Regions from separate parts of the Homo sapiens genome. Here region 1 is linked to region 2. Evidence: fine-mapped expression QTL. Tissue or cell type: prefrontal cortex. Region 2 holds a variant in brackets; the other region holds the start of a gene. All regions are shown on one strand. Distances are between the middles of the regions.

What was found. PIP is the estimated chance that this variant, and not a neighbour inherited with it, causes the effect.
Region 1: SEPTIN2 starts here. The variant in region 2 is fine-mapped to the expression of SEPTIN2 in prefrontal cortex (GTEx, PIP 0.98).

What each region holds. Positions count from the first base shown.
Region 1 is chr2:241,311,999-241,320,098 of GRCh38, reverse strand. SEPTIN2 (septin 2) reads right to left here and starts at 4,174. Exons shown (of 13, transcript NM_004404.5): 1 at 4,117-4,174. HDLBP (high density lipoprotein binding protein) reads left to right here and starts at 4,427. Exons shown (of 28, transcript NM_005336.6): 1 at 4,427-4,529. RefSeq lists enhancers at 2,977-3,701, 3,652-3,711, 3,702-4,426, 4,352-4,451, 4,472-4,521 and 1 more and silencers at 3,902-4,251, 4,792-5,171.
Region 2 is chr2:241,199,143-241,207,242 of GRCh38, reverse strand. It overlaps ANO7 (anoctamin 7), which reads right to left. Exons shown (of 25, transcript NM_001370694.2): 5 at 7,820-7,927; 6 at 7,018-7,154; 7 at 5,888-5,945; 8 at 4,939-5,049; 9 at 3,745-3,910; 10 at 2,288-2,378. Among named protein-coding and RNA genes, the nearest start is that of ANO7, 15 kb to the right of the region's middle. The variant C/T (reference allele first, on the strand shown) is at 3,099.

The DNA of each region.
Region 1 (8,100 bases), 110 kb before region 2:
TAGGCCAATCTCACTCACAAATATAAATGCAAAAATCCTGAATACAATATTTGCTAGCAATTAGATTCCAGGAATGTATCAAAAGCATCTACCAATATTAATCCAACAACACAGTATAGGGGAAAAAAAATCATGCATTAATAGATGCTGATGAGGCATATGAAATTCAGCAACCAATCATAATGAAAACAGTAAGAAAACTGCTGGCAGAGTGTGGTGGCTCACGCCTGTAATACCAGCACTTTGGGAAGCTGAGGCAGGAGGAGCGCTTGAGCTCAGGAGTTCAAGACCAGTCTGGACAACATGGTGAAACACTGTCTCTACAAAAAATACAAAAAAATTAGCTGGGTGTGGTGGCGGGCACCCGTAATCCCAGCTAAGTGGGAGACTGAGGTGGGAGGATCCCTTGAGCCCAGGAGGTGAAGGCTGTAGTGAGCCGAGATGGTGCTGCTGCACTCCAGCCTGGGTGACAGAGTGAGACTGTCTCAAAAAAAGAAAAAAAGGAAAACTGCTTAAATCTAATTCAGGATATTTCTGAAAACCAAAGGCAAATACTGTTTTCTAAACAATAGAAAATTAAATCTATTTAAATTACAACCGATAATTCGGCAGGAATGCCCTTCCATAATTATTTTTAAGCACTTACATGAAAACTTTTACATGAAGACCTATACAAAAAGCAAACAAAACCCCCATGTGCTATCCATTATCCAGCTTCAACAATTAGCAACTGAAGGTCAATAATGTTTCATCTATTTCCACAATCATCAATGCCACTGCCTGGATGATTATGAAGCAAATACGAGATGTAACATTTCATTTATATTCCACTACACATATCTAAAAATAAGGGCTCCTAAAAATGACAAACCATTACACATAGCTAGTTCTTTAATGCAATCAAATATCCAATCAGTATTCATATTCTCTATTCTCTCATTTTTTTCATGTGAATCAAGATCCAAGTAAGATCCAGATATTGCAATTTCACCATGATTATTTAATACTACCTTGGTGAGTTTACTGAATATAATGAAACAAGAAAATCAAAAGAAAACACTTTTTTGCTGATTGGACTGAATACACAGAAAATACAAATACTCGGCTGGGTGCGGTAGCTCATGCCTGTAATCCCAGCATTTTGGGAGGCCAAGACGGGCATATCACGAGGTCAAAAGATTGAGACCATCCTGGCCAACATGGTGAAACCCCGTCTCTACCAAAAATACAAAAATTAGCCAGGTGTGGTGGCGCCTGCCTGTAATCCCAGCTACCCAGGAGGCTGAGGCAGAATCACTTGAACCCGGGAGGTGGAGGGTGCAGTGAGCTGAGATCGCACCACTGCACTCCAGCCTGGCAACAGAGCAAGACTTTGTCTCAAAAAAAAAAAAAAAAAGAAAATACAAATACTCTGGTTAAAAAAATTCTAGAATACGATAATTTAGTAAGGTAGCTAAATATAAGATCTCAAGTAAGTCAAGTACCAGCAACAAATATCAAGGAATAGAAATGGGGGCACATCATTTACAACAGAATTTTTAAAAATCCAAACAAGTAGGGACCAAACTAGAAAACAGGTCCTACATAAATCAAATCATTTTTATTTTCCCCAAATGAGTATGTTATTTAGTCCATTTCTAACTGGAATCCCTAACGGTGTGGCTTTTTTCTTAAAGGATTGGATAAAATGAGCTTTAAGTTCACATGGAAAGATTAAATGCCAATGCTGAGGATAGAAAAGAGCAGGCACTTACCTTATCACCTATTACATGTATCTGATTTCAAACCCACACAGTGCAACATAGAAATACCATAGAGCACCTCTCCCGCACCTCCACAGAACCCCTCAGCCTCACTGAACCCTGTGCACACATATGGGAAAATGGAGAAACTATTTGTCTTAAACTGACATTTCAACTTTGCTTTGACTTTACCAAGTTTCTCCTGCCATCTTTTTTTTTTCCTGTTTTTTTTTTTCTGAAACATAACTTGGATCCACAATGTTTTCTCTCATAATTTATTAACTAATGTGAAATGGAAGGTGAAAGAGGAATTATGAACCTCTGAAGCACATGGTTTTCAGTGAGAAAGCCTTGATCCAGCAACACAAACTGCCAAGCACTGTGATTAACTTAAACACTGGGTGCAAATTGGACCAAAAATGTAGTCAAATGAAAATTTTGTTCCTTCAGATCGTGTTTATTCCACATGCCAGAAGTTGTTTAAAGTTCTTTAATCTTGACCCACAGCTTATTTCTTCCACAGAATAACCCCAATACACATAAAAAACCAATTTTCGCAAAACAAAAGATAGAAGATGAACAACATCTGGCGATGTAGAACCCGGAAGGTCCATGATCTTATTCAAAGCATCTGGATTCTTTGGATTCGGGGAAGGTCCACGTTCAGTATACCCACATAACACTCCTAACAGGGACTGGGGCAGGGATAAGTGGCATGTATGACTACTAACAGAACAGACAATACAAATGGCCTTACCTCACCTCTGCTGCCAAATGAGTTTTGGTGTCCCCATTCCTCCAGACAAAAAAAAAAAAAAAAATACCCACAACTTCTTCTTTTACAGCAGTTTCTGTATGCTGGTATTGGGGATAAAAAGGGGCCCTGAATTACATTTATGAATGATAGAGGGAAACCCTGGCCCCTTTCCCTAGGTCACCTTGCTAGTTTAAGAGCCAGTCAGAATGTAAATCTGATCTAATTAAAACGCTCTTGTTCTTTATTCCTGGCTGTGGCACTGGTGAGAGAAATCAAGGTGGAAGTTGAGGAAAAAAAATCAGGACAACCTTTATAGCTAATGAGATCAATGCCAAGATTATACATAACAGTACACATCATGAGTTAGGATGCTGGGTGGTGCAAAGAACCCATTAATGGGAGCTATCAAAAATCACTGAAAACAATGAGGCTCAAATCAGAAGTATCAAGAATCAGCTTTCATGACCCCTACACCATGATGTTTTTCTTTATGACGGCAGAACTATTTTGAAACATTAAATATATCGGCAGGCACTGTGATTCAAAAAGTATTTGAGAACCTACTAGGTGCTAGACACCAACCGAGGCAATGAGTATGGGTGACAACATGTGCCCTGCCCTCACAGCACCAATAGTCCACTGGACAAATACCATCTGGAACATCAGGTAAACACCTAAGCCTGTCTGGAGGAAATCTAATTTGGGCGGAATCCCACAAGCACAGACTAGGTAAGGAGAAGGCAGTTAAGGTGGGAAGTAGCCAGATTTAAGAGTTTGGGCAATGGCCAAAGGTGCAGAAGTTTGAACTACAAGAAGTTCAGTGTAGTTGGTTCGTGTGTTTCCGTGGAGAGAGGACAAGGTCTGGTGGCACTGACAAGAATTAGACCGAAAAGGTAAAAAAGCAAGCCAGGTTTGTCTGGGCCAGTAGGCCAGGTCACAGTTGGGACTCCACTGAGACCACGGAAGCCACAGGTTTGCTCCTCATCCCCGGGCCAACTCGGCGGCCTCCAACCCTATACCCTACCCCCTGCTGCCTGTCCGTGCCTCGCTGGTGCAGACCTTCGTCGCCTCTCCTCGCCGAAGGTACCCGCAGACAGGGCCTAGTCGCTCTCCCCTCGCTTATCCACGGCATCCAGCCGATGGGCTTGGAGGTTTGGGGGCTGGCCAGTCCTCCACGCCTCAGGGAGGAAATGGCACCGTTAGAAAGACAAGATGGCCACACAAGCTCTAAGTGTTTGTCGGGCCTAAACCTGTATCCTCCCTCCAAGCACCAAACCTCCCGACCTCGACCGCACTCGACGCCCCGAGGCCCAGCACCGACGACAGTGCAGAGGAATTCCCGCAGGGTCAACAAGGGGTCACCGGAATCCCCACTCCCGCGCCCGGGCCTGCCCGTGTCGGAGCCACTGTCGCCGGCACTAGGACCGCCCGGGACGGGGGAGCCCACGATAAGTGCCGAAGAGCCTGGGCTCGGCCGCCCCTCCCCCACACCGCCCCGCCGGCACCCCAGAGCCAGCCGACCACCGCCCGAGAGTATGGGACGAGCGGCGCGTCCCCCGCAGCTCCTCGGGAGGGCCGGCCCACAACTTGTGCGGGGTACACCGGCGAGACACTCACCCGCCAAACAGCCCGAGAACAGGCGCCGACCGACCGCGCCGCGGACCCGCCCAGCGCTCGCGGTCCGCTCACAGCCCGCCCCAGCCCGCCCCGCCCCGCCCAGCGCGCAGGCGGATTGCGTCACCGCGTCACCCCGCCCCTTTGCCAACTGCTTCCTGGCTCAGTGCGACCTGGCCTTCTTCCCCTCCCCCATGCGGCCGGCTTCCGAGTGCGCAAGCCCAGAGTCGTCCGCGTTGTCCGCCTCTGCGCAAGCGCCGTGCTCCTCCCACGGCAGTTGGCCATATAGAGGCTGGGGGTGGGGGGGGAGGTCAAGCGTAGCCTCTTCTCCTTTACCAAGATGGCGGCTTGTCCCTGTTTCGCCACAGTTCCTACCTTATGAGCTCGGTTTTCTTATGCTTATAAGAGTGGAACAGGTAATGAGAATCTTCGCCTTGCGGTGGGTAACTGGAGTGGGGGGAAGGCCGTTTGTTAGAAGGAGACAAGTGCCCACTGAGGAGGAGAGAGGCGGTCGCGGGAGGGCAGGTGGTGGCGGGAGTGCGGAGCGATCACGGGGAGGGGGAGCCTTCGCCTCTCCTCCTGTCCTCCAAGAAGATGGCGGCAGCACCGAGCTGGGGCGCCGAGTACGACTGGGCGGGGGACGGCGAGCGGCCGCGCGAAACTCGTCTAGCCCACCACCGCCGCCGTCTCGATGATCGGGGGGCCTCTCTGGGATTGGCTGCGCGCACGTCACGTGGGGCCGACGGGCCCTGCGCAGACCATCGAGTCGGGCGTCCCTCCCCGGGGACGTGGCCTTCCTGTGCCCGGGCTGGGGCCCGCCGCCCCGCGGGGGAGGGCGGAGCTGGCGCGGCCCCTAGCTTTCTCCTTCTGGTGTGGGGCCCGAGGTGAGACCTGGGGAGTGCTCCGCGAGCCCACGAGCAGCGACGTGGCTCGGGGACGGGAGGGTGCCGTGCCTGGCTGCGGCCTGAGCGGGATGGGCGCGGGCGGCTCCGGCCCGCGGGTTGTGCCCCGGCCCGGGGTGTCCTTTCCTCCCTCCCGCGTGGCCTGGAGGCACTGCAACTGTTCGAGACTCACGTCAAGGCTTGGCGCAAATACCCCTCGTTCAGGAAGCCTTCCTAGGTTTCCCCCGCTTAGAGGAAACACTTCCTGAGTTCCTAATGGCTGACCCGCATGGTGTTGGGAACCTGAGCCTTTCTGACACCGTGGCATGTTGCTAGGGTATTTTTGTGCGTAGCTCCTTTGAAAAGTGGTTAGGTGCTCAAGGCTAGCTGCTACATATCCTCTCCATTCGACTTAAAAAATGAGAGGGTCAGACTTGACATGGTGTTTGGACGCCATGTAAAATCGAAGGAAGTCGACTTGGGCTTTGCTTATTAAACAGTGCCTATTATGGTGAAATTAAACGGCTGAAGGAATGTGGATGAGTCGTAATCTTAAGGAACATGACGATTTGCCCCTCAGTTTTGCGTTTTATGTCCTCAGATTCATAGCTACCTATACCCTAAGCCCTCAATCAATGACTTCACATTTATTTGGTGTCTGCTTAAGGATAGTCACTTTCTTAGCAGCTAACTTCCTTAAAACCCTATTAAGATAGGTTAAGTCACAATTAGGGTTTTGTCTAAGGCTCCTGGTAGCGGCACATTGCATAATAAGCTTAATGTTCATTTAGGGAAGCAAATCTGGGATGCTGAAACACTGGATGAAACGTAGTGCTTAGGTTTATATTTTGATTTTTTGACATGTAAAAGTATCCCTAGGCTAAATTCATTAAGTACACATGATATTAGGATGCTTGGCAACAGTATTTAAAAATAGTTGAAAAGGTGTTTGGGTAAGAATTATTTCCATCATTTGGATTACCGAATCTCTGAGTCTGAAACATCAACCTATCAAGTTTTAGACTTGGGGAAAATGGAGCTGGAGCCTACTGCCTCAAGTCTCAGGGACAGCGTTTGAAACCCCATTAAATAATTCATCATGAGGATTAAACTTTCCTGTTACTGCTATTAGTTTTGCTTGGTGCCAAGCACTGTTGAAGGGACTTAGCTCATCTTATCAGGAGTCAAATTAACGTCATTCGGGTAAAAGTGCATTGAGTGTAAGGAGAGCACCTCAAAGATATAGTTGACCTATATCACGTCCCTCAGCGCCACTAGGCTTACTTGAATCCCTGTTACAGTGTCCTCTCCAGTGGGCAAAGCTAACTTCTCAGTGGCCTGGTGGGAGAATTTCTTCTTGAGTAAATACGTATTTTTCCAGGTTTTGTTGTTTTGGCCTTCCAGTTGTCTGACTTCAGCCTCATGACCTCACTTCTTCATTTCAATTCAAAAAAATATTTGCTGGAAATTGCTGTGTAGGGTTAAGGGTTCTGCAGATACAAAGGTTGAGAGGATATAGTCTTTTCGACCAGGTGCAGTGGCTCACGCTTGTAATCCCAGCACTTTGGGAGGTCGAGGCGGGTGGACACTTGAGGTCAGGAGTTCGAGACCAGCCTGACCAACATGGTGAAACCCTGTCTCTACTAAAAATACAAAAATTAGCCTGGCATGGTGGCGCGCGCCTGTAATCCCAGCTGCTCAAGAGGCTGAGGCATGAGAATCGCTTGAACCCAGGAGGCGGAGGTTGCAGTGAGCCGAGATTGTAGCACTGCACTCTAGCCTGGGCGACAGAGTGAGACTGTGTCTCAAAAAGCCAACAAAAAAAGAGGATATAGACTTTTCTTTTCCTCAGGCAGCTTGTGGTCTAGTGTGAGAGACTTATTTGTAGAAGAGTAATTACATTATGGTGTGATAAGTGCAATGATAGAAATATGTGTAAGGTGTGGACATAGGAAATAGGCAGTGGTTACCTGTTGGAAAGTCTTCCTACAGAATGTGGTCCTTGAACTGCGGTTTAAAAGACGAGTAAGAGTTTTTCCAGGTGGTGCTGAGTGGACAGGAAGACTAGGAAAGAGGAGGCTGACATTTATAGTTGGTGGCATACGTGAGCAACAGGTTTAGAATTTGGTATACTCTTGCCATGGCAAATGGTAGAGGGCTTGGCTCAGACTGTGTACTGAAGGACTTGATGCCCTTCAGTGAGTTTTATCTAAGATACTCTGACCTGAACAGAATTTGAGATGATTGTGCCGGGTCCACTGGGATATCTTACGATCCTTCGTGGGTCATATGGATTCTCCATTAGTGCGTCCCAGCTGAAACTTACAGAAAGGGCTTAAGCAGAGAACATGCTTTTTGGAGTACAAAGTGATATTTTTATTTGGTATGGCCCGTTCATTGTGCATCCATCCCATAGGCAAATGGTGATACGAAAGCTTTTCCCTCTTTTGGTAAGAAGTAACCAAGTTCTGAAAGAAGCATATCATGCGGCTTTCCCAATTGCCAAGTTATGATGACACAAAGTCCAAAATGCGTGTAAAGGTTTTTGACCAAGTAGAAAAGCAGAGAACCCCAACCAGTATAATGTGTCAGAATGCTTTTTCTCTTCAATTGTAAAAGCACCACAACGTTCAACATCTGGAAACCAAGAAAATAATGAAAAGAACCTTTTTTCATGTGTATAATATTTTAAAACTTGGTTACATGTTATTTTTTGGTATTTCTAAAGTCAGAGACATTTTAGAAGTGAAATCCCTAGTAGGCTATTGTTTTACCAAGCACACTGAAGTTCCTCGAATACCGTTGAAGATGAGCTAGACATTTGTTCTGAGACGTGTCTGGACATCATGTGGTTGTGTTAGTCATCTTGTTGATACTTGTTGTTAATTTGGTAAGAATACATTGACTACATACTCTCCCTTACTACTTTTTATTAGCATTCATATTAATCTTATTTCAAATCAAGGTTACAGCTTCATGTCATTTGTAGAGTCAGATAATCCTAGAAAGGCTTGTAAGAAAGAAGTGCCAACATCCTTCCCCTAATCATGTTTCCTCCCCTGCAGAGTATCTACTTCAGCCTTAGTAGATTTCCTTGATCTTTGCC
Region 2 (8,100 bases):
CCTGTCCACCTGTGTCAGCCTGGGAGCACTCCTGTCCACCTGTCAGACTGGGAGCACTCCTGACCACCTGTGTCAGCCTGGGAGCACTCCTGTCCACCTGTCAGCCTGGGAGCACTCCTGTCCACCTGTCAGACTGGGAGCACTCCTGTCTACCTGTGTCAGCCTGGGAGCACTCCTGTCCACCTGTCAGCCTGGGAGCACTCCTGTCCACCTGTGTCAGCCTGGGAGCACTCCTGCCCACCTGTGTCAGGCTGGGAGCATTCCTGCCCACCTGTCAGCCTGGGAGCACTCCTGTCCACCTGTCAGACTGGGAGCACTCCTGTCCACTTGTGTCAACCTGGGAGCACTCCTGTCCACCTGTCAGCCTTGGAGCACTCCTGTCCACCTGTGTCAGGCTGGGAGCACTCCTGCCCACCTGTGTCAGGCTGGGAGCACTCCTGTCCACCTGTGTCAGCCTGGGAGCACTCCTGTCCACCTGTCAGGCTGGGAGCACTCCTGTCCACCTATGTCAGCCTGGGAGCACTCCTGTCCACCTGTGTCAGCCTGGTAGCACTCCTGCCCACCTGTGTCTGGCTGGGAGCACTCCTGCCCACCTGTCAGCCTGGGAGCACTCCTGTCCACCTGTCAGCCTGGGAGCACTCCTGTCCACCTGTCAGACTGGGAGCACTCCTGTCCACCTGTCAGCCTGGGAGCACTCCTGTCCACTTGTCAGACTGGGAACACTCCTGTCCACCTGTGTCAGCCTTGGAGCACTCCTGTCCACCTGTGTCAGGCTGGGAGCACTCCTGCCCACCTGTGTCAGGCTGGGAGCACTCCTGTCCACCTGTGTCAGCCTGGGAGCACTCCTGTCCACCTGTCAGACTGGGAGCACTCCTGACCACCTGTGTCAGCCTGGGAGCACTCCTGTCCACCTGTCAGCCTGGGAGCACTCCTGTCCACCTGTCAGACTGGGAGCACTCCTGTCTACCTGTGTCAGCCTGGGAGCACTCCTGTCCACCTGTCAGCCTGGGAGCACTCCTGTCCACCTGTGTCAGCCTGGGAGCACTCCTGCCCACCTGTGTCAGGCTGGGAGCATTCCTGCCCAGCTGTCAGCCTGGGAGCACTCCTGTCCACCTGTCAGACTGGGAGCACTCCTGTCCACTTGTGTCAACCTGGGAGCACTCCTGTCCACCTGTCAGCCTTGGAGCACTCCTGTCCACCTGTGTCAGGCTGGGAGCACTCCTGCCCACCTGTGTCAGGCTGGGAGCACTCCTGTCCACCTGTGTCAGCCTGGGAGCACTCCTGTCCACCTGTCAGGCTGGGAGCACTCCTGTCCACCTATGTCAGCCTGGGAGCACTCCTGTCCACCTGTGTCAGCCTGGTAGCACTCCTGCCCACCTGTGTCAGGCTGGGAGCACTCCTGCCCACCTGTCAGCCTGGGAGCACTCCTGTCCACCTGTCAGACTGGGAGCACTCCTGTCCACCTGTCAGACTGGGAGCACTCCTGTCCACCTGTCAGCCTGGGAGCACTCCTGTCCACTTGTCAGACTGGGAACACTCCTGTCCACCTGTGTCAGCCTTGGAGCACTCCTGTCCACCTGTGTCAGGCTGGGAGCACTCCTGCCCACCTGTGTCAGGCTGGGAGCACTCCTGTCCACCTGTGTCAGCCTGGGAGCACTCCTGTCCACCTGTCAGACTGGGAGCACTCCTGTCCACCTGTGTCAGCCTTGGAGCACTCCTGTCCACCTGTCAGACTGGGAGCACTCCTGTCCACCTGTGTCAGCCTTGGAGCACTCTTATCCACCTGTGTCAGCCTGAGAGCACACCTGTCTACCTGTTTCAGCCTGAGAGCAGTCCTAGCTACCTGTCAGCCTGGGAGCACTCCTGTCCACCTATCAGCCTGGGAGCACTCCTGACCACCTGTCAGCCTGGGAGCACTCCTATCCACCGGTGCCAGCCTGGGAGCACTCCTGACTACCTGTCAGCCTGGGAGCGCCCCGTCTGCCTGTCAGTCTGGGAGTGCTCCTGACCACCTGTCAGTTTGGGAGCACTCCTGTCCACCTGTCAGCCTGGGAGCACTCCTGTCCACCTGTCAGCCTGGGAGCACTCCTGTCCACCTGCCAGCCTTTCAGCCATGTCCACAAGGCCCTCTGTGACACTCCTGAAGACAGGCATGTGCTCACCTCACACCTCAATCACCTCAAGCACCAGCTGTCTGCACAGGACCTAGCACCTAGGGGTCCCCCCGCCCCACACCCATCTGGAGGCCCAGCACCAGGCCCCAGAGCTGCGGAGAGGGAACACTCACGTGGGTATGTCTGAGAACACCAGGAAGCAGCCCACCAGGAACACCAGTGTGCCCACCACTGCCGCTGGCAGGAGCCAGCCTGTGTAAAACCCTGTAGAGAGGATGGCAGGGGTCCACCATCAGGAACCCAGGCTTGGGGGCCCCAGGTAGGGGTCTGCACAGCCATGCTTGTCCCCTAGGGACCACCCTCAGCCCAGCTTGGGGGCTGGGGCCCTATGTGAGGAGGCCAAGAGGTACACAGCTCTCCCTGGCAGCTCTGGCACGGCCCACCCTCCTGGGCCTCTGCCCTAGACTCTGGACACCCCTACCACATTGACCCCAACACCAGTGCTGCTGGGGCTCCAGCCCACCAGGCTCTCCACCTCTGGATGCCTTCTCCTCAGCCAGCTCACTCCAACCAACCTGCCCGGGACGGACAGAGAAGTCCCTCTACATCCTGCCCACCACAGAGCTGTGGGCCCACCCGTGTTCCAGCCCCAGGGAAACCACGAGTCATTCCGGGTACCTCCCTCCCCACCACCCAACCCCCACCCTGGCCCCTGCCTCATCTGACCACAGCCGCAATCCCTCAGTTACCCCAGGCCCTCAGCATGTACCCCCACTGCCTCCCATAGGGCTAGTCCAGTCCCAGGCCTGGTGTCCTGTCTCCTGCCTGACTCTCTGCTGGCCAAAGTGACTGCTGTGAAACGCAAGTCTGCCTGGAGCCCAGATCCAGCCCTGGCCCTGCTTGCCCCCAGAAGCCCCCAGCCTGGCCGTGCTGTCCCAGGGTTGCTGCTCCAGGTCCTGAGATGGCCGGGTGAGTCCTGGCACA[C/T]AGGAGCTGTCCCTCTGCCCCGATGCTGTGCCCCGGCTGCCCTTCCATGCCTGCCGGCCCCGCCCGCTGCCCTGGCTGGCTCTATTGTCTGGGTCCACGGTGGGGCTGTGTGTGCGGATGAGAAAGGGCTTTGGAAGTTCTGGGGCACAGAATGAAGGGGTTGGGTCTGACCCAGGATGGGGAAGGGAGGGTGCCAAGAGCTGAGTGGGGTGAGGGCAGCCAGGACCCAGGAGGAACAGCTCTGGGGTTGCCTGGGGCAGATGGCCTGCTTGGAGGAGATGAGAGGCTTGGCCTGGACCCAGGCAGGGGCGACCTCCCTAGGATGGAAGTTCCTGGGGTTGCCCCAGGGCCTCATGGGCCAGTGACATTCGGGGAGGGAGTCAGGAGAGACCCCCACCAGCAGAAGCGGCTCTCAGCACTGTTACTGGAGCATTAGGAGGCCAGGGCCCGGCATCGTCATGGCGCCCAGTTAGAGTGAGTGGGCTTGAGGGGAGCCAGGAGGGCAGCCCGGTCGAGCCAAGAGCTGCGCCCACCGTCCAGGCCCCCACGCACGCTGCCCTCCAGGGGTACGGACTGGCAAATTGTTACAACCTGACACCAAGCTGGGGGGGCCCAGGTGGTCTGGGGGGCAGCGGGGGGGACTCACCGAGCCAGGCGAAGTAGAGGGCCACCTTCTCCCCGAAGTACCTGCGCACGTGGTCCAGGGGCTGGTACTTGTTCCACTTGCCCCAGCGCGCCCAGTGCTGGAAAAGGACTTGGCGCTGGTTGAGGCGTGGAGCCTGCGGGCCCTCTGGGGGCGTCTTGAAGGGGCCCTGGGGGCGAGCGGCCTGTGGGTGGGAGGCTCCCCCAGCTGACCCCACTGGGCACTGTTGTAGGTGCAGGGGCTTCAGTGTGGGACATGGGCAGACAGGCCTGGGAGTCTGGGATTGCTCCATGAAGAAAAAATAGAGTAATGTGGAGGGGTGGGTACAGGGTGGTCCGGGAGGACCTCTCTGAGGAGGGGACATATGTGGTGAGGCCCCTCTGACTCCTGGACTTCGAGGGTTCAGGGCGGGGAAGGGCCTGGAGAGGCCACCCTGAGAGAAGCCAGTGGCGGTGGTCCAGGGTCCAGCACCTTCTCTGGGTTGGAGAGTCCCCAGGCTCGTGTCCTGTGCTGTGCATTCTGGGCCCTGGCTGGCGGGAGGAGCCACCCCAGCAAGGTGGGACACCTGGCATTTCCACACCCACTTTTTCATTTAACCCTCATGACGGCGTTGGGGCAGGACTGGACCCCTGGCCATGCAGCAGTGGGCTCAGGCCTGACCAGGCCCCAGATGCCCTGGCTGCCTGCAAGGCCCCTCCCCTGCTCGGCCAAGGGGGAAGGCTTGGGCGGGTGGGGGAATAAATGGCCTTCTGCTCCCCACAGTGGCTGTTTTCTCAGGGATGATGGTAACGCTGATAGGAACAGGTGCAGCGGCAGCTGCCCTGGTCAGTGCCCGCTTTGGCATTGCCTCAGTTTACCCAGCTTCTGGAGGGGGATAGGAGACCTCACTGTCTTTCCCAGCAAGAGACGCTACCCAGAGAGACAGAGCCATAGCATCTAGAGCCCAGGGACCGGCCTGTTCCCGTGTTGGGCACCGCAGTGTGGGCTGCAGTCCCCGCAGAGCCGGACCTGAGGCCCCGGACAGGCCACGGGATGGCCTGATCACATCGCCGCATGTGTGTGCATTTAGTGTTCTGACTCCTGGGTGGCCACGCCGGCTGACCATGCCTGCCCCACACCCGCCTCCCTGGGGGCCAACAGGACCCAAGGGGACTCATCTCCCATACCCAGGCTGGAGCCCCCAGCCCCCGAGCTCACGTCATGCAGGGGGAAGGCGGCACTGAGGACACCCTCTGCCAGCAGCTGGTGGATCCCAAGCAGGTTTTTCTTCTCGTGGCCATACGGGGTCTTGGCCAGGATCTCAAACAGCTGCAGGGGATGTGGAGGATGGCGCAGGTCACTTGTCACGTGATAGCAGAACAGGGAAGTCCTAGCTAGCCTGTCTTTAGGCCAAGGCCATGGACGGCCTCCCTCAGCCTTCTGGTGACAATAGCGATCTGATGGAAAGGCTTGGGACTTTGTGTCACCACCGCACATGCACATGCAGGACGCCCCTGTGCCAGGGTAGTGCTCATTCTCCCACTGTGCAGGCTCAGAGTCCTTGACCAGAGCCACACGGCATGTGGGAGTCGAGTCTGCACCTGAAGCTGGGCCCCTGCCTGGCCGTGCGCAGCCCACTCTGGACCTGCACCCTGGGTGACGGTGAACACTGCAGCCTGGCAGCTGTGTCCAGGGTGTGCCCTGCCCCCTACCTGGGCAGCCACGTGACTGTGTGCCCTGTGGTGGTCAGCAGGGCCTCTCTTGGGTAGGCCTCAGGAACAGGCCTCCTGCCGGGTGCCTTGGGCCTGCCCCGCCTGGGGCCACCCTTCCTCCGACGCTGCAGGGCAGGTCTGCTCCCAGCCGGCAGGACCCACCCTGCCTGGGGCTAGTCTCGGCTGTCCCACATGTCCATAGATCCAATATCTATTTTGAGCCCTGGGGTCCCGGAGGGGAACTGGGCCCTTCCCCACCCCTTCCCAATCCCAGGTCATGGCCTGCCCTGTGTAGCGAGGTGAGGTCAGCCTCTAAAGTTTCCAAAGCCTCCGGGCTCCAGGCCTCGGCCCTCTGGTCTCAAGCAGGCCTTTCTGCATCCATGGAGGCTGGGGGCTGGCAGGATCCTCAGAGCCAGGTCAGGGTTTGGGGCCCGCGGCAGGGAACCCCCACTCACAATTTGGTGCCTCTTGGTGCTTGTGAAGAAGGTGTCCTGGTTGTCACTCCCGAGGAAGCTGTGGGCATGTGAACAGTGCAGAAGGTTTGGAGGAAGCTGTGGGCATGTGAACGGTGCAGAAGGTTTGGAGGAAGCTGCGGGCATGTGAACGGTGCAGAAGGTTTGGGGCCCGGGTGCTGGCGCGCACGCAGAAGCACAGGCCTGCGGACACAGCCCTCGCCCCAGGAGAAGCAGCTGGCTCCCCGGCAGGTCAGCAGCTCCCGATTATGCCTTTTCACATCCCCAGGAACAGGAGGCCACAGCAGGCCCCCAGATACCCAGAACCCCTCACCACACACAGGGTGGGGGGAAGCAAACTGTGGTTGGGCACAGGGCAGGGCGGTGTAGAGAGGGCCAGGCTGGCCAGGGAGCCCCATCCCGTGTGCCGCCCTGAAGCTCCGTCATGGGGCCGAGGGTGCTCGTGGGCAGTGCGGACAGTGACTGGGTAGGGGCCCTCCCTGGGAAACCAGAATCTTGGGAAGCCATAGGTGGGGCAACACGGAGTGAGGCTGAATTTCCCACCAGCCCCAAAAGGAGGCATCCCGTGTGGCAGAAAGGCCGCCTTCAGCACTGGTTCCCCGACAGTGGTCCCTGCCACTTCTGGACTCCCCTAGTCTGTAGGCCTGGTGCCATAGTGCAACTGGCTTTGTCCAGTAGTAATGTGTGTGGACGACACACGTGTCGTTTCCAGGAGGGAGCCAGCATGGGCCAAACGTGTCCCTGTATTCTACCTCCACAGTTGGGGACGCTGTGACGAGACAGAGCCTCCATCGCCCGGGCCCTGAGAGACCGTGGTGAGCAGGTACCGCGCCGCCCCACCACACGTGTGCCTGAGCAGGAACTAGACCTCGCGTGTCCAGCCACTGGGCCTTGGGGGGGTTATCTGTCCTGCAGCACAACCGCCCCAGCCCGGCTGACGCAGCGGCATTTGGAAATGCAGACACGCGATAAGCGTGCGCACCTGGCCTCAGATTCCCTGCCGAAAACTCCAGGTGAGGAGAGTCCTGGGGAAGCACCAAGTTCCGCTCACTCATTCACCGACTCCCACTCACTCCTGTTCTTTCCTCCGACTGGCAGGGCCCCTGCCTTACCGTGGCAGCTTGTTCACTCTGAACCGGCAGGAGTAGTACTCGGGGGGTACGTCTGGCACAACCTCCAGCAGGACGTTGGGGATGCCCAGCCATGCCAGCAGGCCGGCCGACCAGTTGGAGGCCTGGTTGGGTAACTCCTGGAAGGAAACGTCAGTGGCTCCTCCCACTCCCGGGAGGAGGGCAAATGCCCCAGGTGGGAGTGGAGGTTGTGCAAGTTTGCAAATTGGGCAATGGGCGAAGGGGCTCCAGCAGAGGGAAGGAGCGTGGTAGACCCTGTGAGGGCCCAGGTGAGCCCCTTCCCCTCTCAGGGCCTCAGGCTCTGAGGCTGCTCAGCTTGTCAATTTGTAGCCCAGAGACCCTCAAGTGGAAAAGGGGTGGGAACTGGTAAGTAGCGTGTCTCCCACCCGCACGCAGTGAGGGTCAGGCCAGCCAGTGCGGTGGGAGGCGGACCCACGTCCAGGCCCATCTTCCTGAGGTCACCTGGAGGCAGCCTTCTCCACCCCATGTTCATAGGCAGGGCCCTCAGCAGGTGGCCTGGCGGGGGTCTGGGCCTGGAGGGGCCAGCTCAGTGCACACGCACTGTTCACCCGACCCCACCTCCCGGGAGCCCACTGTGGGGGATGCCACCACCTGCCCTGTTTGCCCAGTGAGGTTTCTTGGGGCCTGGTGTCGGGGTGGGTAGGAGGAGCCCCTGAGGCCTCTGAGCAGGGAGCCCTCCTGAGGCTGTCGGCACTGGCAGCTGAACGCAGTGTGTGGGGACCGGGACCTCCAGGCCCACCCTGTCCCCATGCCTCCCACGTACCTGCAAGGGCAGCTTCAGGCGCAGGTCTTCGGCGTAGTAGCAGAGCACAGCCCAGGAGGCGCTGAGGAGGGCGTAGTGCACTGTGGTGTTCCCGTCCTGGACGTCCTGCTGTAGGCACCCAGGGCTCCGTGAGAGCCTGAGGGTGCATGTGTGCACGTATGCACATGTGTGTGTCCATTCGCACTCTTAGGAAAAGACTGGCATTTCTGTAGCCGTGGTAACAGCTGACTTTGAATCTCCTATTTGATACATGACACCTACTCCCATGGATACGCCTCTGA